Linked DNA regions of Homo sapiens: regions 2, 3, 4 and 5 are each reported to be linked to region 1. The links are microRNA targets in miRTarBase. Many come from high-throughput screens and were not tested one by one. Region 1 holds a microRNA gene; each other region holds the end of a gene's coding sequence.

What was found. The annotated mature microRNA hsa-miR-515-3p reads GAGUGCCUUCUUUUGGAGCGUU and lies in region 1 at 2,512-2,533, opposite strand. An mRNA with a match to its seed (bases 2 to 7 or 8) in the 3' UTR can be bound and repressed. Matches are read on the target gene's strand: a 7mer-m8 pairs with bases 2 to 8, a 7mer-A1 pairs with bases 2 to 7 and ends in A, and an 8mer does both.
Region 2: the mRNA of GALNT2 is a reported target of hsa-miR-515-3p. The part of its 3' UTR that is shown has no 7-base or 8-base seed match.
Region 3: miRTarBase lists ADAM22 as a target of hsa-miR-515-3p. The part of its 3' UTR that is shown has no 7-base or 8-base seed match.
Region 4: the mRNA of CHML is a reported target of hsa-miR-515-3p. Seed matches in the 3' UTR shown: 7mer-A1 at 3,528-3,534.
Region 5: miRTarBase lists COX15 as a target of hsa-miR-515-3p. The part of its 3' UTR that is shown has no 7-base or 8-base seed match.

The regions. Positions count from the first base shown.
Region 1 is chr19:53,683,470-53,687,591 of GRCh38, reverse strand. MIR515-2 (microRNA 515-2) reads right to left here and starts at 2,583; the gene lies at 2,501-2,583. MIR519C (microRNA 519c) reads right to left here and starts at 1,123; the gene lies at 1,037-1,123. The region is part of intron 2 of LOC107985342 (a long non-coding RNA gene); the gene reads right to left.
Region 2 is chr1:230,278,652-230,282,773 of GRCh38, reverse strand. GALNT2 (polypeptide N-acetylgalactosaminyltransferase 2) reads right to left here. Exons shown (of 16, transcript NM_004481.5): 16 at 652-3,471. The coding sequence ends at 3,316. Among named protein-coding and RNA genes, the nearest start is that of PGBD5, 150 kb to the left of the region's middle. RefSeq lists an enhancer at 315-474.
Region 3 is chr7:88,196,176-88,200,297 of GRCh38, reverse strand. It overlaps ADAM22 (ADAM metallopeptidase domain 22), which reads right to left. Exons shown (of 32, transcript NM_001324418.2): 32 at 1-3,827. The coding sequence ends at 3,807. Among named protein-coding and RNA genes, the nearest start is that of SRI-AS1, 18 kb to the left of the region's middle.
Region 4 is chr1:241,630,056-241,634,177 of GRCh38, reverse strand. CHML (CHM like Rab escort protein) reads left to right here. Exons shown (of 2, transcript NM_001381853.1): 2 at 1-4,122. The coding sequence ends at 382. The region is part of intron 1 of OPN3 (opsin 3); the gene reads left to right. Among named protein-coding and RNA genes, the nearest start is that of CHML, 8.3 kb to the left of the region's middle.
Region 5 is chr10:99,710,876-99,714,997 of GRCh38, reverse strand. COX15 (cytochrome c oxidase assembly factor COX15) reads left to right here. Exons shown (of 9, transcript NM_078470.6): 9 at 280-4,122. The coding sequence ends at 411. It overlaps ENTPD7 (ectonucleoside triphosphate diphosphohydrolase 7), which reads right to left. Exons shown (of 13, transcript NM_020354.5): 13 at 3,757-4,122. Among named protein-coding and RNA genes, the nearest start is that of COX15, 19 kb to the left of the region's middle.

The DNA.
Region 1 (4,122 bases):
CAAACACACCCATATATATATTTTTTTTTTTGAGACAGAGTCTCTCTCTCTATATAAATATATATGTATATATATATTTTTTTTTTGAGACAGTCTTATTCTCTCGCCCAGGCTGGAGTGTGGTGGCGTGATCTTGGCTCACTGCAACCTCCATCTGTCCGTTCAAGTGATTCTCCTCCCTCAACTTCCCCAGCAGATGGGAATACAGGCGTGCGCCACCATAGCTGGCTAATTTTTTGTATTTTTAGTAGAGACAGGGTTTCACCATGTTGGTCAGGCTGGTCTCAAACTCCTGACCTCAAGTGATCCACTCGCCTCAACCTGCCAAAGTGTTGATATTGCAGGCATGAGCCACCGCTCATGTCGTATACACACAAAAACTGCTCATATACTCATGCGCCTGGCTGTACATCATTTATTTTCCAGACCCTATCTCAAAAAAAAAGAAAGTTCCATATACTGTATGCTCACATAAAGAATTACTCCTACACATAAATGTTTGCTCCACACATAAGAAATGAATGGAGTGACAGAGATCACCATGGCCCCTGTGCAGAGGTGATGCCCAAATTCATGATGGGTCTCATATTGAAAATTAAGATCAAAGGCCGGGTGCAGTGGTTCATGACTGTAAACCCAGCACTTTGGGAGGCCGAGGCAGGTGGATTACGAGGTCAGGAGATGGAGACCATCCTGGTCAACACGGTGAAACCCCATCTCTGCTAAAAATACAAAAATTAGCCGGGCGTGGTGGCATGGGCCTGTACTCCCAGCAACACAGGAGACTGAGATGGGAGAACCACTTCAACCCGGGAAGGGGAGATTGTAGTGAGCAGAGATCGTGACCCTGCAAAGAGGACCACCTGAGCCCAAGAGAGCTAGGTTGGAAGTGCCACTGCTCTCCAGCCTGGGCAAAAGAGACCCCGTCTTAGAAAACAAACAAACCAGGAACAAAAGCCCACCCTCATCCAAGTCTGATGATAAGCACGCTCTGCAAATGTATTGCCGAGATCAGCATGAACGTTAACGTTGCTTTTCTCAAACTGTAATCCTCTAAAAAGATGCACTTTCTTTTCTTTCAGACAACAGAAAGCGCTTCCCTCTAGAGGGTCACAGGCTGAGATCTTCTTGCTCCAGCACCATTGATTTTTTGTTGGAATTTTCCTTGACCAGGTTAAAATGGACACAAAAATAAAGATGCATTTATTGGCCCTGTTTGCATGATTTCTGGAATCCAGAACATAAACCCCTATCAGGGCCATCTCCAGTTCCTTGTTTCAAAAAGCAATGCCGACTATACATACCTTATATTTAACCATGAGAATTGGGCTGGATTCTAGAGAACAGCAATAGATTTTGAGCTAAGTGTTCACTCGAGTTCCAGTACAGTGACACACAGTCCCGACGGGGGCATCCAAAATGGAATCTACGATGTTGAAGAATATGCATTGTCACACACACAAACACCCTCCAGGAGAGACCACAGGCCAGGCTGTAAAAGCTCCTCAATAAAATGAGCAGAAACACACAGGTACAGGTGAGGTGTGGTGGCTCACACCTCTAAACCCAGCCCTTTAGGAGGCTGAGGCAGGAGTATCACTTGAGTTCAAGAGTTTGAGACCAGCCTGGGCAACATGGTGATACCTCATGTGTAGAGAAAACAGAAAAGTTAGCCGGGCGTGGTGGTGTGCGCCTGTAGACAGCTACTCAAGAGGCTGAAGTGGCAGGTGGAGGTTGCAATAAGCTGAGATGGCACCACTGCACTCTAGCCTGGGTGACAGACCCAGACCTTATCTAAAAAAAAAACAAAAACATACACACACAAACAAAAAATTACCCAAAGTGATACGAGAGTATTCTCTGTGTATAGAAGAGTGTTTTGTGTGTATATGACTATGTTACATGTATAATAAGAATATGATAAAATATATATTTTTGAGACCGTACATCAATAAAAATTAAGTTCCATATACTATGTGCTCACATGAAAAATAATTCCTACACATATGTGCTTGCATTGGCAGCACACATTAAAAAAAATTGGAGGCTAGGCTGGGTGGCTTACACCTATAATCTCAGCATTTTGGGAGGCTGAGGCAGGCGGATCACCTGAGGTCAGGAGTTGGAGACTAACCTGGCCATCATGATGAAACTGCATCTCTGCTAAAAATGCAAATATTAGCCAGGCGTCGTGGCACGTGCACCTGTAATCCCATCTACTTGGGAGGAGAGGTTGCAGTGAGCAGATAACATGCCACTGCGCTCAAGCCTGGGCCAGAGACAGAGACTCTGTTTCAAGAAAAAAAAAAAAAGCAAGCACGGGACCACTTGAGCCCAAGAGATCTAGGTTGGAAGCGCCACCGCACTCCAGCCTGGGCAACAGAGACCCCATGATGCAAAACAACTAAACAAAAACAGAACCCCAACATCATGCAAGTCTGATGATAAGCACGCTCTGCAAATGTGTTACCAAGATCAGCATCAACTTCAACGTGGTTTTTCTCAAACAGTAACGCTCCAAAAGAAGGCACTCTGCTTTCAGACAACAGAAAGTGCTTTCTTTTGGAGAATGACTGCATGAGATCTTCTCGCTCCAAAAGTCTGGGTTTTTTGACGGAATTTTCCTCACCTGGTTAAAATGGACACAAAAATAAAGATACATTTATTGACTCTCTCTGCATGTTTTCTGGAATCCAGAATATAAACCCCTAAAAGGACCATCTCCAGTTCCTTGCTTCAAAGGCTCAGCAGGTTAGCCTTGTTCATCAAGAGACAATCCTCCTGAGTTCTGTCCCCAAAGAGAAAAAGCAATGCCTACCACACATACCTTATATTTAACCATGAGAATTGGGCTGGATTTCTAGAGAACAGCAATGGATTTGAAGCCAAGTGTTCACATAAGTCCCAGTACAGGGACACACAGTCCCCATGCAAGCATCCAAAATGGAATCTAAGATGATGTTTAAGAATATACACTGTTGTACACACATTCTCCAGGATAGAACACAGGCTAGGCCATAAAAGCTCCTCAATAAATTTTTTTTTTTTTTTTGAAACAAGTCTCACTTTGTTGCCCAGGCTGTAGTGCAGGGCCGTGATCTCAGCTCACTGCAAGCTCTGCCTCCAGGTTTCCAGCAATTCTCCTGTCTCAGCCTCTGGGGTACCTGGGATTACAGGCACGTGCCACGATGCCCACCTAATTTTGCATTTTTAAAATTTTTTTTTCTTTTTTTTCTTTTCTTTTTGTGGAGAACAGGGTCTCACTGTATTGCCCAGGCAGGTCTCAAACTCCTGGGCTCAAGCTATCCTCCTGCCTCTGCCTCCCTAAGAGCTGGGATTACAGGCGTGAGCCACCGCGCCCGGCTAATTTTTGTACTTTTAGTAGAAATGAGGTTTCACCATCTTGGCCAGGCTGGTCTCAAACTCCTGACTCCAGGTGATTAGCCTGCTTTGGTCTCCAAGAGTGCTGAGACGACATGCCTGAGCTACCGTGCCTGGCCTGCAGACAGCTATTCCAGAGGCTGCGGTGGGGCATGGGCCAAGACTGCAACACTGCACTGCAGCCTGGGTGACAGAGCCAGACCTTGTCTCATAACACACACACACACACACACACACACACACACACACACACACGAAGGAAAAAAAACCCAAAGTGATACAAGAGTATTCTGTGTGTGTAGAAGAGTGTTTTGTGTTAATCATTATATTATCTATAGAAGATGATATGATAAAATGTGTATCATATATAAGACACTGCCCCCAGAAAAGGAAGTTCTATATACTGAATGCTCACACGAAGAGTAATTTCTCCACCTAAGTGCCTTCTCTGGCAGCATATGTTAAAAAAAAAAAAAAATGACAGCGATTCCCACGTCCCCTGCACAAAGTGACACCCAAATTCATGATGGTCCCATATTTAAAATTAGAAAAAACAAATGCCGACACCCACAGCCAATCATTTCTACTTCAAGTACATCTCAAGTATACTGTTAATCTGAAATACAAATTTAACCAGGTTTCCCTGCTCTGGGAAGCCCCCTTTGGTAATTCAGATAAGGGTCTCCTTTGGAAGGTAATGGGTAAGGAACATGGAGATGTCAGCCAAGGGAAGTGACTCTC
Region 2 (4,122 bases), not on the chromosome of region 1:
ATTCAAAACATTAGCCAGGTATGGTGGTGAGTGCCTGTAATCCCAGCTACCTTGGAGGCTGAAGCGGGAGAATCGCTGGAATCACTGAGGCGGAGGTTGCAGTGAGTCGAGATTGCGCCGCCACACTCCAGCCTAGGTGACTCCGTCTCAAAAAAAATAAAATAAAACAAATAGTATCTGAAGAACCTCAGAGACGCCTGGATGGAACCGAAGAGCCCCAGGTAACTGGTAAACAAGTCTATAAATCTTAACTACTTGAAAAACTGTAAAAATATTTGTCCCCTGGTTTGGAGCACAGGGTCTGGGTGCGAGTGCCAAGGGCTGGCTCCAGGCAGGTACACAGGAAGGACGTGACCTTGAGCAGGCTAGCAACTTCCTTCACCAGCTTCCCCTGTGGCTGTAAAATGCAAATGTATTTAAGGGCTTGGCTGGGTGCCTGGCACATCATAAACACTCCACAAATGATAATGATTATTATTACAAGTAAGAATAACCAACCAAAGGGCACAGCAATAAAAGCGCATCTGCAAAAGGTGATAAGAAACAGCCACTGAGCAGGAGCTGCAGAAGGCTGACCCCAATCCCAGTCCCCACACCCACCCCACCCAGCCCTCACACACCAGGACAGACTCTGGCCAGCAAAGAGCGGTATCTAGAAAGTATCTTCTCTTTATTTAAGTTAAACAATTTTCAAGGATGGTTTCCATCTATAAAATGGACAAAGTACAAGCTCTGTACAGCAGTTCTTTTTAAAAATCAACTGGAAAAAAAAATTACCAAACTATATTTTGAATTTGCAAAACATACTCACAGATACCATCATCTGAGCTTTTATGAGGACATAAGAAAGGACCAGCACAGAGAAGACAACTAACTTCGGCACGCTTTGCTCGAAGGGCTCTTAGGAAAGAATTCTGAGTTTTAAAAACAGGAGTGGGAGGGTGAGATAGTCCTGATGATTAAAAACTAACGCAACCGCAGTAAGTCACTTTGGCACACTGTGTCATGTAAACATAGCTCACCGCAAAGGACCCCTCCCCGGCCCACCCCTGCTCTTGACGCCCGGACCATCCAAAGCCGCCTCCCAGCTCAGGGACAGGACGCCGCCCCCAGGGCATGGGCCGCACAAGGGTCTGGGTAGACACGTGGGATGATAGGAAGGCTGAGAGGGCCTAGGGGTGCGGGCGGGGTAAAGGTGAAGGGGCAAAGGATTCGTCAGAAAACGTGATTTTAAAACGAGCCAGATTCATCCATTTCCCTCCTTACAGTAGTAGCAGCTCGCAGGTCACAGGGTCTGACAGAAGAACCTGGGTGCTGGGGGCTACGCACACCCTGCTCTGGCCTGCACTCCACAGCCTCGCACAGGTACCTAAGGGGGTTTTCCTCAGGCTCCCCCCGAGCGCCCACCGTGAAAGACAGAAGCGTGCGGAGTTACTCCAGCGTGGGGGCACGCTGCCCACTCACAACACATCTGGTTGCATGGCAGGGGAGGCGGGAAGAGAAGACCTATAGGGCAGCCCTCCAGCCAGGCTTCCACCTCGGGGCCGCTGTCCTACAGTGCACACATGTGGGGCTCCCGCCGGGGAGGAAGACACACAGTGGCCCCTTTCATACAAGACACAGGGAGGAGCATGGCACCGGCACAACCTCCCAGGGTGGCTCCTAACTCCAAGGCCGCCGCTGTCCCACCGAGGGGCCTGCAGGTGTGCCTAACTGACGCTTTTCTCAGACTGCCAGGCCGTGCCAGCCTCTCTGAGACTGAGCATCTGTGTGTGCGGCGCTGGAGAAGGCGGCCAGGAGTGGAGGAGGAAGCAGGGCACCGACCACAGAGTGGCAGGGGTGACGAGGAACATTCCTGAGCACCCAGGTAGAAGCCAGGCACCTCTCCCCGTTATGACTTTCAGTTCATAACTGTCTGTGGTTTAACAGGACCCCAAGGCTCCTGTCTCCCGCCCTGAATCCTCAGTGTAAATGAGCAGGTATTGTTTGGTTCTGACCCTTCCTAATTCTTTCCCCAAAGCCCCCTGAAGCAGTCATCTTGGCCAGGCGGGGTGTGGGAGGGAGCTGCGGGCGGGGCAGGACTCGCTGCCTGGCTGGAGCTCCCCAGGCCAGCAGGTGTGCAGGACTGTGAGCCAGGCCTGTGCCCTGGCTGACGGGCTCATCCCTGACACTGCTGGCCATTAATTCTGAAGGCCCAGCGTGCAGGGCTCAGATCACAATGAAGCCAATACTAGCGTGTGACAGCTGCCTGGCATCATTGGTCTGCCCTGTCGCCAGGGGGCAGCGGTATTGCTGGCTCACACAGAGCTATGGGGTATGTCTTATATTCCTTAGAGAAAAGAAATTTAATGTAAAAAGACCCAAAGTGATATCTGTCAAAATAAGTAACCGCTCCAGGTTCACAGATACGCACAGCACGCAAGGTGGATTCTGACGCACAGTAGGGACTCTCAGGCTGACGCCCAACAGGGATGCCGGGGCCGAGGCCGGTGGTCTGGAGGAAGCCCCCCAGCTGGCCACAGCAGTAGCACCAACTGGCTGATCGGGCTCCAGGGGACAAAGGCCACCTCCTCCCTCTGTGAGAAACTGGCCCCACCGGGCTCTGGCCCCTTCTCCCGGAAGCTGCGAACGGCTTTGTGGGGAATATACAAGATGACGATGATCTACAGAAACCATAGGGAACTGACCGTACATTCTTTCTCTATATAGCTTTATATTTAGTGTCCCACCATAGAAAACTTCATCCTCAATATAGCAAGTACATGAGGTGGAGGGGAGTCTGGCCCAGGAAGACACTTGCGAATGGAGGAGCAGAGAGAGGGACTATTGACGTAAACCTGCCACGTGACACGACTCGGCTTTGTGGAAACCATACGTGATTTCGAAGGGATTGAAAATGGAGATTTCAAGAGTTCTCCTCGCTCCCCTGGGGCATGTGTGCCCCCTCCTCCCGCCCTGTCCTCAGCTCGCACGCATCCGTTCAGTTGCTTCTACCACTCCCCAGTCGGTTGTCGCTGGGTGTCACTCAGTTGCGGAGCCGGCAGAAGTGAAAGCTGGAAGGAAGAGGGGCGCTCCGGCCTGGGGAAGGGGGCCCGGCTGGGCTGCACCGAGAGGAGGGGGAGGGCAGTTCTCGCTTCTTGCCGCTGCTGTGTCTGCACAGTCGTCCGTGCCTTGCCGAAGTTTGACTTTCAGACCATGATGGAATACTGAGGTATATTAGTTTCGCGGAAAGTTTAAGAAACATAATCAATAATGTGATCACCAGACTCCACCCAATGGTGCAGGAGACAGGACGGCAGGGCCTCCCGGACCCTCCTACTGCTGCAGGTTGAGCGTGAACTTCCACTGCTGCGAAAGGGCCGGGCCACACACCTCCACGCTTAGGCCCCCGCTCTTGGCCGTGCGACTGTCCAGGCACAGGTTGCTGCCCACGTGCCTCAGCTTGGAGTTGCCCTCGATCTGTTCCCATTTCTGCAAGACACAGGAGAGTGCCTTAGAGTGTGGGCACAAGCAAAGGAGTACAAACAGATTCGTGTGAATTCAGGACCTTGTGGCTGCATTAAAAACTCACAGATAGACACGTTTTTCCCAGCCTCTCATCTGAACGGCCGAGGAGCTTGCAGCAGCCCCACAGGAAACCAGCCACAGGTGCTGCTGGGACCCAGGAAGGAAACATATTCTCTGCCTTGGATCAAAACTCAGAACGTCTCCTGCCCCAAACTTTCTGTGGGTGTCCCCTCCTCTGAGCCCCAGAGCTCTGGGCACCCACCCCTTCGTCATTAACACAGGATTTGATGTAGGGGAATTTGCATGCCTTCGTATGAAAGCTTGATCCAGTGATGGTTCACCCCAAGAAGGGATCCACACAATGCAGGGCCAGATCCTCCCCTGGCTGTTGGAAAGCAGCCCTGCCTGGAGGCCTTGGTCTGGGCACCTCCATGCTCCCACTTAGGGCTTTCTGCTCGGGGGAGCCAGAGGAACGGTGTCAGGCCAAATGTCAGGAAGAGAGATGGTTGTTTGAACAGAACATAGCATTGAGAAGCCTATTTCTATGTAGTCTGTTCTCTACTGGTGTGCAAGCTCCTTGGTGGATATGAGAAACTTGTCTCTGCTACCCTTGAG
Region 3 (4,122 bases), not on the chromosome of region 1:
ATAAGAATTTATTATTGTGTTAAATAATAACATAAGAAAATATTTAAAGTACTATATATATGGTTAGAACTATACGACAATAGGAAATGAATGGATAAAATGAATAAATGAACAAACCTTATTTTAAAACACTGAAAAAAGTGAATAAAAATACCATATATCTTCTGGTCCGAAGGTAACTGTAAAACATAAAGAACAAAATCCCAAAAAAGGTAACAGGTAAAGTAGCCACAAGAGATCTGGGACAATAGACAGGATTAAATTATGTAGATATGCAAGGGAATCAATAGAAAAGAAATGTAAGCCTGTTATGAAATTCAAACATAAATAGTCCTTCTCTGAAAGTGCAGAGAATATCCAATTTTGTCTTTCTGACAACTTCTTTAGAAATCCTATTAATGTTACTTTCAGAAATTCTATGCCAGACTGACCTTATATACAAACACAATTTTAAAATTCTTTTTAAAGTAACAGGGAAAAGAGAGAGAAACTATGGTATCACTTAATAAAGCACCAATATCAAAGTGAAAAATAAGTTGGCATTTTAAACCCACATTTGCTTTATTCATCAACATTTTTTAAAGGAACAACTCTAATGATAGGTTATTCCTAATCGAAGCTCCGGGTGTCTTGTTAAAAATACAGCAACCACAGCAAATTGAAAGCCCTCACCATGTTGCACTGTCCGATGTATTCCTTTCCACAGATTGCATGTGCCCTGGGGATCATTTCCAGCCTGCAGCGTTCAGAGGACCATGCCACTTCCCATCTAAATAAAGAGTGGCTGGAGGACAGTTCATGTGGCCAGTCCACTCCATAAGGACTCTCTTCTATCCCATGCCTTCCTGTTCACACTTACTGGAGAGACTTAAATGTTCCTTTAAATCAGGGTTTACTGCACTGCAATGACTATGGATAAATGGAACTTCTCAGGCAGCAGGGTGCCAATCTGTAGTCTTATCAATGCATAAAACTGGAAGAGGGGAAAAAGGCATACAATGGAACATAAAGGCCAAATAACTGCTCTCTTCTGCTTAGCAATGATTTTGTAGTGGATTGGGAAATATAAATATTAGTTGCATGATATAAACTGTGATACGGCCTCAAAGTTTCTCTCCAAAATAGATATTTAAAGAGAAATAATGCTGTGCTTGTATATTTAATGCTACCTACCTCGGTGGATGAAAAGTCATAAATATTTAGATGTAATGCCTCTAGAACCCCAACCATGAGTATACATATAGATACTTCTTGAAACTCTCCCTTGAGACTATAAATTTGTCAATGAATCCCACAAATGGCTCTAAGAATGTTTAAACATGGGAGATAGAGTAGATTCCAAGAATAGAACATTAAAGTTACTGTATACCTCAAATCATAATCTCTACAAATAAAACAAAAATTTTTAGTCAGTTCCACAGGAAGGTTATTACCAAGGCGGGTAATTACAAACTATATACCTCTAGAGAAACCATGTCTCCCAAAAGGCACATGATCATGATTTTCATTTGAAATAATAATTTCATGTAAAAATAGGTGAGGGAAGAAAGACACACAGACGAATGATAGAGATCTGTTAACTTCTCAGCTAGCCATTTGTGGATTCTTTCAAATTAGAGTTTGTGTACCTGTAACTAGGAAGCATATTTACATGAGGCACCTTATATTCAAATCTATAAACTCTTTTATAGTCAAAATAAACCTTATAGCATTAGCCTTTTGTACACTCAGTACCAGGAAACATTCAGTGCACGTTACAGTGATCTTGGTAAAAAGTCACTTTATTTGCTACATCTTTCAATCTGTCTGCCCTTCTGTTCTTGGCTTGAGCTATGTGGCAACACTGCCCAACACTCACCCAAACCTTGGCCTGATGGATCGCTTTATGGTCATATCAACAATCACATCCCTTCCTGTCATGAAAAATGCTGTTTTACATTATGTAATTTTGGATCATTAAATTGCTTTCCAAACATTTCAAAGACTTTCAAAAGAGAGGTCCATTACAGAAGACATAAACACACAGTATAAAATGCTGCCTTCTAACTCGGCCCTTCAGTTTGGGCATGATATGTAATCAAATTGATTACATATGAAGATGATATGGATTTTGTCCATGGATACTATGGGAGAGGATCAAATTTAAGAGAGTATATCTGAAAACCTGTCTGCAGATTCCATTCCTCTTAAGAACACACAGCAAATGAGGAAATCAGAAGTATACTTCAGAGCAGACCATGTGATTGAGCCCATCAATCTCCAGCCTCACTAGGGTAGCTAGCTTTCTTTTGGAATGACAGATCTGCCATTATAACAGCTATCAAACTTTGGTTTTAAAGAAGGGTCTTTTAAAATAGAATCTTATTTTCCTATGGATTAAAAATATATGTTTCAAAGCATCAGATTCTTTCCCCCACCAGCTGTTAGTGTAACTTCGCAGATGCTGCATCTCTGTGGTTTAGATCTAACTTAACCCTTTATGAATGGTTGAAGCTGCTCAACTCAAACAGTAGAATCTTCCGTCATCTTGCTTCAGAGTCAGTGCAGAATGACTTGTTGGGATTCACATCCCAGTGATGACAAATATTCTTAATCAACAGTGTCAAAGTTGTTTTTGTTAAAACAAGTCATTCATTTCACAGATAAGGGTGACTACAAAGTTTTGCCAAGGAACAAAACTTCAGGCCACAAAGGGTTAGAGTATTGGCAAACCAGAAGCTACCAGCTCACTGGCAGTACGTTGTCTCATGTGTCTTTGGTGCACTTGCTTAATCTCAGCAGCACACACTGCTGAGGGGCTGGCTCACTGGGATGAGATGGGATGGACGGATGGGATAGATGATTTCCAGGGAGCAGCCCATCGGCAGCAGAGTGGGCTCCTGCATCAGCAAACTGTGGAGGCCAGAAGTTTTGCTGGGCATTTTGTTCTCTCACTCAACTACTCACTCAATAAAACTGCCTCCAGACTGTGCACAGGTTAAAGGGATATCACATGTTTTGGACAAATACGAATTATGGAGAGACACATTTACAGCATTGACCACTATATTTACATTACCTGCTTATAGTCTTTGAAGATCACTGGATGGATGACGATGATGTGATTGTGACGGAATTTTTAGGCATTTGGCAAAATACACTTGTGTGTAACAGCTGCATTTTTTTAAAATTTTAAAAATGTTACATATATACAATTGTCCTTGTATGCTAATATAAATATGAAAAGTAAAAAACAAAACAAAAATAAAAATACATGTTTAAAGTTAGCCTATGGGATATTGGCCTTTCAAAGCTTTAAAGTCCTGCAGAAAAATCCTATATGCCTTAGCCCTGCATGCTCATTTCTATTATGGGATGTTGTTTCCTTAAATATGGAAAACAATAAACAGAAGCTTCATGCATATAGCATTACTGTTTACAGTGAGGATGTGCCTCAGAACGTCAAGTTCTGAATCCACTATTGTACCTTAGGAAACTTGCTACATTTGGGTCATGTGAGTTAACTTTATGAATATTTCTACATATTATCTGTCATGCGGATTATCCATTAACATACCAGTACCTTTATTGTTCCATGTTATAGTGTAATATTTCAGTAGTTCTTTTCATGGTTAGTTAAATCCTAAGCCAATGACAAAAAGAAAATGGTAACCAGATGTGAAACTCCGCTTCCTCTCCTCTGTAGCATCTCAGAGGGTCTTCGTATTGTCTGAAGAGCAGATAGATTTGCAGTGATTCCATGAGCCTGGGTTTCTATAAAAGTTGAAGTAAACAGTTTTCGATGTATCACATGTAAACAGTTGATCTTAAATGGATGTCTCCCATAGCTGCACAACAGAAAAGAGCAAAATTGCACATTGTGAAAGCAGGAAGCAGATGTATTCTGAATAGGAGATGAAAAAGATTCAGTGATTCCATCCATATATATGTGATTGTGGATGCACACTCTTGCAAAGTCTAAAAAGTGGATAGAATAAACACTCCAACTTTTAGCTCTCTGTTTCCTCAAAACCTGTGTCTCAACCTTTTTAACAGCAGCCATCTTTTGATACAAAAACCATCACATCCTCATTTAATGTTACTAAACATTTTGAATAGAGTCAATATTGTGTCTCAAATGAA
Region 4 (4,122 bases), not on the chromosome of region 1:
CACTCCGTATACTGAAACAGAAATAAACGAGGAAGAACTTACAAAGCCAAGACTCTTGTGGGCTCTTTATTTTAATATGAGAGATTCCTCGGGAATCAGCAGAAGCTCGTATAATGGCTTGCCTTCCAATGTTTATGTCTGCTCTGGGCCTGACTGTGGCCTGGGAAATGAGCATGCTGTCAAGCAAGCTGAAACACTTTTCCAGGAGATCTTTCCAACTGAAGAATTCTGCCCTCCACCTCCAAATCCAGAAGACATTATCTTTGATGGTGATGATAAGCAGCCAGAGGCTCCTGGAACCAATAATGTAGTAATGGCCAAACTAGAATCCTCTGAGGAAAGCAAAAACCTAGAAAGCCCAGAGAAGCACCTTCAAAATTAGAAAAGAGCAATCTCGAAATGCTGTTTTGGACCTCCTTCATGGCATCAGAATTTTCTCATTTAAAGGACAGTTTCCCATATGAGTAATTAGAAGTGGTTATATATGATGAATGCTATGCAGATGTTGTCTTTAACTCTCAGACATTCAGCATTGAATATCTTTGTTAACCTATCAATGAGTGATTTATTGATTATTGAACATTTTGTTTAGAATGGGCTATATGACCCAGAATCTTAAAACAGAGTTAGCTTTATTTTAGTATTGGGTATATATGTAAGGGTTCCATATTAGCAACTCAGCTTAAAGGTAATGTATTTGCTAATGATCTTCAGATTTTATCTTTGTCTACAGAACAATTAGTAATACCCAAGTAATATTTTAATTACTTTTGCAGCTGTTACAGTTGCTGCGGCCTGTTCGAATAGTGAAACATACACAAATGGTAAATTATGTGGATCTTTTGCATATAATATAAATGTATAGACATGGTGGTAGGAATAGCAACTAATACAAATGCCAATATGATAATAAAATACATTTGTCTATAATCGTTTAAAGATTAGCTTTGCATGATCCTTTATGCACTGTGAAGGTCTGAAGTTTATAATACTCACTTGACCCTTGTAACTGATGAGGCAATGATGCCACCACAGTATTCTAATTTACAAAAAGAATTGGAGTTCAATTAGTGGTTGTAAAGCTCATTTTGGGGAGGTTGATTGCAAAGGAAATTTGAAAGATAAGATTTATTCTTATTTAATACTTCAGAAAATTTCTGCAGAGCCCTGCCCTGGCACTTAAAATAGCTTCCAATAAGTAACTTAGACCAAAAGGAAAAATGAAGTGCCCCAGGAGAAGATACTTCAGAAGGGCTGTTCTGAAATTCCTAAGGAGGAATTCTTAGGAATTCCTAAGGAGAAACAGAGTGAGGCCTTTTTAACCTGAGATTACAGATACTTATAAAACCCTCTATAAATAGATTACCCAAGGTTTTTCAGTGAGAATGAAACATACCACCTTGTTGGCTCTACCACTTTAATTAATATCACTATAACATAACTGATAGGAATGAATCAAAGGAGGATTTACCATGCCCTTTCGGTTGTGTCCCACTTAACAAATTGTGAAGTAACAATTTTCTGTAATCTCTCTTGCCTCTTAGCTGTTATCCAGAGTATAGAAACTTTTTTTCTCCCAGAGCCACCCAACGTCATAAAACTGGTAGTACTCTAATGGTGAAAACCTGTGGAGCTGTCAGAAGACATGAACTTGCTTTTCCTCTAGTCCAGTTTCCATTCTTCAGTCAGAGTATGATGATCCCTGTGACAGTTTTTGCTCTGAAATAGTATTTATCATGTGTTTGGTACCTAGTATTATGCTTTCTCATGACAGTTTCTCAACAATCCTGTGAGGCAAATTCGCATGTACCCTCTGTATTAGTGTGTTCTCATGCTGTTGATAAAGACACACCTGAGATGGTAATTTGTAAAGAAAAAGGTTTAATGGACTCACAGTTCCATGTGGCTGGGGAGGCCTCACAATCATGGTGGAAGGTGAAAGGCACGTCTTACATGGCGGTGGACAAGAGAGAATGAGAACTAAGTGAAAAGGGAAACCCTTTTAAAACCATCAGATATCGTGAGACTTATTTACTACCATGAGAACAGTATGGGGGAAACAACTCCATGATTCAGTTATCTCCCACCAGGTTCCTCCCACAACACGTGGGAATTATAGGAGCTACAATTCAAGATGAGATTTGAGTGGGAACACAGCCAAACCATATCACCTTCAAAGAAGAAATAAGAGAATTATTAGTAATTTGCTCAGAATCTGGTATGTGGAAGAGCCAACATGGGGACCCAGCCTTTTGTGATTCTAAAACCTTTGATCTTTCTACTAACATTCACTGTTAGAGAGTGTAGGCGCTGCAGGAGAAAGAGAAAGTGCCCACGAAAATTAGTCTAGCATTGCCGGGGGTAAAAAGCACACACTGGTCCTGCAGCTTATTGAATCAGAGAAATGTGAAGATAAGATGAACTAAACAAACATATTTTAGAGCATGGATCTCGAAGCAGAATTTGGCTAAATTTTAACAAAATGTTCTTCAGTAACACATCTCATGATCTGAAGATTGTGTTACAAAAAATATTATCAGGCCAAAATTTGTTCGGAATACACTAATTTTTGCTCCTCTATATGTGAGGAAAATGAGACTAGACAGATTTAAGTAATTGACAACTTACTTAAAGTAGCAAAGTCATGGATTGTATTGACTTTTAAAAATATAGTAAAAGTCATATTTAAACTTTATCCTAAAGTTTAAATCTAACAGAACAACTGAAATACTTGAAATAGACCTATAAAATAGTAATTAAAATGAGAAATACATAAGATGATAAATAAAATGAAGGTGAAGGTATTCCAGATCTACCGAAAAGATTTTCAGTATCACAGATTATTCATAAGAAATTGAGAAAAGGAACAATCAGAAGTTGCAAAAGATGGTATAGCCGAATATAATGGAAATAGGAAAAATTAGTCGAAAATAAAGGTTGATTTAGAAATGAAGAAAATGAATATATTTCTTAATACAAAATAAGTGGGAAATGAGAAGTTATACCAATAAAAAGCATTTAAAAATTTAGGGGATATTGTAACCCAGTATAATTTTCTGACAGGTTGGACTTTGACCCTAATGGACTTACTGGTGAACTTTTTCAAATGTTTAAATAATGTCTATCCATGTATCATGAAGGACAGTATGCTTCAAATTGTCTTTTGAGGCAGACATGTTCTCAGTACTAAAAGACATTTTTAGAAGGATTTTATTCTCAACAGATGCAAAATGCAAAATAAAATATTGGCAAACAATACAGCAACAAATAATTTACTATCACTCAGGATTATAAGGCTGGTGTTAAGCAGAACAGCCATTAAATCAGCATCAAAAGAACAAATAGTAAAATCCAAAGTATTAATTACAGATAACTTTTCAAAAATTCATCATTCACCCTTGATTTAATTATTTCTCTGGCAATGATTTAATAGACTTCTCGGAGTCTGTTAAGTACTTAAACCAAGAACTACCATTATTCCTACTGGGAAAACATAAACATTTCTCAAGTGGAAAGTAAACAGTGTTGGCACTATTTTTATATATGGTTAAAGAGACCTGTCATTGCAATAAAAGCCAGCATTCACAAAATGAGGAAGATAAGGAAAGTAGCATAAATATTTTCTATTAACATGGCTTTACAACTGCTAAAACTTATAGTATAAAAATGTACTAACAAAGACTAATTCAAGAAGTTGCAGGATACACAATTTTTAAAAATCTCATTTCTACATCTTAGCAGTGACAAACTGCAATTTAAAAAGTGTGTTTGGTTATTAATATATATGAGACTTTTAAAGAAAGTTATATAACTACATAGAGATAAATTAAGAAAGATGCCTAAATAGAAGCAAGTTTAAAGAGCTATATTTTTAAACATGAACAAACTCCCATGGGAGCCATGCCAGTGTAGTGGAAAAGTAGTACATGGGGAGATGGGGAGTTTTTTTGAAAACCAGAATTACAGTTCTCATTTCACTACTTACCAGTTGTATACTCTTGGGAAAGTCACTCCTAGTATCTATTTCACCATCTACAGAAGAGAAATACTTCACAGAATTATTGTGGGGATTAAGTTAGATAATGTGTTTTAAAATATAAAGCTACATCCAAAGAAATGCCA
Region 5 (4,122 bases), not on the chromosome of region 1:
CTCTATAAACATACTAAAGTACAAGTATGCAGAAACTGGTAACAGTGACTACTCTGGGGAACTGGGATGGATTGAAGAATAAGGGGAATTTTAGGTTTATCAATTTTGTTCGAATTTCTTTCATTGTAAGCATATTTGCTTGTGAAATTAAAAATGTGTGTATTTTAAGTGCTCTGATAGGAGGATGTGGAGGTTTGTGTGTGGTTATCCACGCCTGGCCATTTTCAATGTGAACTTTGGGTTACTGCCTTTCCTATTGCCTTCTTTCCTTTGTGACAGGTGGGCTTGGGCATCAGCACGCTGCTGATGTATGTCCCAACTCCTCTGGCCGCCACTCACCAGTCAGGCTCCTTGGCTTTGCTCACTGGTGCTCTTTGGCTGATGAATGAACTCCGAAGAGTCCCAAAATGATTCTTAGAGGACCAGCCTCCTGGGACTGTGACTGCTTTTGAGAGCTCTTCAGAGATCATAAGAACTTGGGCTTTTCTACGAGATGACCTTGACATACCAAGTGGTTTCCAAATGGTCAACTTACTTAAAAATCTTTTCCTGTTTTGAGATAGTCACTGGATCAAGAATGCATTAAGTGTGGTTACCCTAAATGTTCCCTTTTAAATCTGCTTTTCATGTTGAAAATCAGTTTTAATGTAGAGAAAGAAATGTCTGCCATTTGCTGCTTAACAGGCTTTGTGTCAGGTTTTTCAGTGTTGGCAAGCTCTTGGTTCTACGTGGATGATTTCTACGTGGATGTTCTCCTGAGTCCTTAATTCTGCCTAAATAGAATTTCTTTATGATCTTAACTTCACTTCCATTAGGTGAAGATTGAAAGGATAGGATTGACATACCCAAAGTAGCCAGCTGGTCTTCAGCAAAAAAAAAAAAGCTAATGTCTTCTAATATCCTGATTTTCAGAAATGGGGAAATTGCAGATTTTGACAAGCTTAATGTGTATATGTAGCAAAATGGTTTTTAAGTACTTGGAAAAGGAGGTAATCGCCAAATAGTTCCATTTTTTTTTTTTTTTTTGAGACAGAGTTTCACTCTTGTTGCCCAGGCTGGAGTACAATGGCGTGATCTCAGCTCACTCTGCAACCTCCACTTCCCAGGTTCAAGCGATTCTCATGCCTCAGCCTCCCGAGTAGCTGGGACTACAGGCACAAGTCACCATGCCTGGCTAATTTTGTATTTTTAGTAGAGAAGGGGTTTCACCACATTGGCCGGGCTGGTCTTGAACTCCTGACCTCAGGTAATCCGCCCATCTCGGCTTCCCAAAGTGCTGAGATTACAGGCATGGGCCACCACGCCCAGCTAGTTCCTCTTTTGATAAGGCTGTTAACATTACAAGGTCAGAGAGAGGAATGGAATCGACAGTATAAATTGGTTCCTGAGAGGGTTTCCTAACAGCTTTGTAATAAGAAAAATATGGCCTTGATGGTGTAGTGCATGGACATCTACCCAGATAAACAAATTGTTGACTGCTGAATTAATGTGATTTTGGTCTCTATTGATATTTCATAGGGCCCTGTCTTATTCAACTTTACTTTTAAAATCAGTGATTTGGATGAAGGCATCAGAAACATCTGATTTGAGGATGGAGCAACCCAATATTGCTAATATAATAGATGACAGTGGCAACTGAAAACAGTCCCAGAATGACCCCATCGAGATGAAATTAAACAGATTAGAAATGTAACATACTCATTTAAATTAAATAAGTTGTATAAGTTTGGGCTGAAGAAACCTGGCCTTATATCATTTCATATAAAAAAGACGGGATTTTAGTTGTCCTCAGGTTCAATATGAACCAAGTAGTATTCATGTTGTTATTATATGATAACAGAAAAATTAGTGGTACTTCAGGTTTTATCAGTAGAAGTGTCACAGCCATAGTCAAAATACCCCTAACATACTGCATTTCACTCTGGGTACCAAATTTAAGCAAGATATTGATGGCCACTAAGTGTGTATCCAGAAGAAGAGATCAGAATGATGAGTCCAGAACCCCTGTCACACAGGGAATAGGTGAAGGAACTAGGGATATTTAACTGGAGCAGAGAACATCTGGAGAGAGAGCAAGATTCCTGTCCTTGAGAAGTTGAAGCCGTCTCATGCAGAAGAGGGAATGAGCTTCCATTATGCTGCAGAGCTGGCAGCAATGGATGAAAGTTGCAGGAAGTTAGTTTTAGTTCTGTAGAAGGCAAGAGTAGGGTAGACCAAATCAAATGCTCACTGGGGTCAGGCTGATGGAGACAGTAACACTGGCGAGCAGGTGCCCCAGCTCGGACTATACTGCTGAGTTCTGGTCTGTTGCTGCCACTCTACAGGTCCAGGGTTGTTAGATCTTCTGGGTTTTTGTTTTGCTTTTTGAAATAAGGAAAATAAGCTTATCTTAAGTTTATTTTTCCTTGGATATACCTAGATTCCATACAGTGACAATACAAATACAAAGGAAGAACATCTGGATTTCATCCTTGACCTCATTTACAAAGCAAAAAGAGATGCTGGATTCAGATATAAATGTTTAATTTTGCAGTGTTTAAGTCAGCAAATCTTCTGTTTTTTAAAAATAAGCCACATATCTAGATTTTTCTGTGAAAGCTCTCAATTAAGTGTTGGGAACTAATTTCAAGATTTTAAAAAATGTTATGCAGGCTTAACGTGTCTGAGAGCCATAAATGACCTAACGTTTCCCGTTAGTCTCTGAACTAGGTGATCTCAGTTCTCTTTCAACTCCAGTACTCTGTAAGTTTCTGTGACCTGTAGTGTACCATTCTCAGGTGGTGATATGGTTTGGATGTTTTGTCCCCTCCAAATCTCATGTTCAAAGTGTGACATTCAGTGTTAGAGGTGGGCCTAGTAGGAGGTATTTGGGTCATGGGGGCGGATCCCTTATGTATGACTTTGTGCCATCCCCATAGTAATGAGTGAGTTCTCACTCTGGTTGTTTATGCAAGAGCTGGTTGTTTAAAAGAGCCTGGAACTTCCTCCTCTCTCGCTTGCTCTCTCTCACCATGTGACACACTGGCTCCCCTTCACCTTCTGCCATGATTGTAAGCTTCGTGAGGCCCTCACCAGAAGCAGATGCCAGCGCCATGCTTCCTATACAGTTCTATGCAGAACAGTGAGCCAAATAAACCTCTTTTCTTTCTAAAAATTGTCAGTATTTCCTTATAGCAATGCAAGCCGACTAACACAGGTGATTCTTAGCAAAACAGTTTGTCAATTTTTCATAAATGCTGGACCCTGGCTGGGCTTATGCTATTGCCTAGAAGAGATTCCCAACTTCTCTCTTATTTGAATCTTAGAAAAATCCCAAAGCCCAAGCCTCATCTAAGACCAATTAAGTCACAATCCCTGGAGGAAGTAAAAGGCATATTTTTAAAGTTCCCCAGGTGATTCCAATGTGCAGACAAGTCTAGGGACCACTGGCTTAGGTCCTAATAGCCTAGTTACCTTAGAAAGTTCTGACTAGCTTATTCCCATTCCCTTCTAATTTCCACCCCACCTTATCATTTGATCTGCTATGTTGCTCCTATTAGTATGTTAGTAGGATATGGTCTCTTCTGGATAGAATCCTTCAAAGAAAGGGAACTGTAGTTCCTGAGGCAGGTTCCCACACCATCCTCTCCTGATCCTCAAACCCAGGTTGTCCTTAGTTAGTAACTGAGTCAGCAGAGGGCAGTATGACCCAACCCAAAGAACCATATATTAATGCTTCTACAGTTGCCTCCAAGGAAGTAGCAACTCATGAGTAAGTTAAGGTTTCAGATGTTTTACTTCATTTTTCTTTTATTACAGATGATGAGTACATTTGGAAAAACAACTGGTTGCATTTAGCTATATAACTGTATTATATCTATGAGCTTCTGGTGAATGATTATCTTAGGGTTTTTTTTGTATTTATGTTATTCCCAGCACTCCCAGACACATATCAAATATTGAATTAGTGAATGCATGAATGGAAAATGGATAATTACAGATTGATGTTCCAAATACCTTTTTCCAAAAAAACAAGTCATCACATACCTATAGGATTAAATAGATTTCCCTTAATATTTTCAAAGGTCTCTCTGCACTTACGTCCATTGTTTTTAAAACATGAAGGAAATTAAAACACATGGC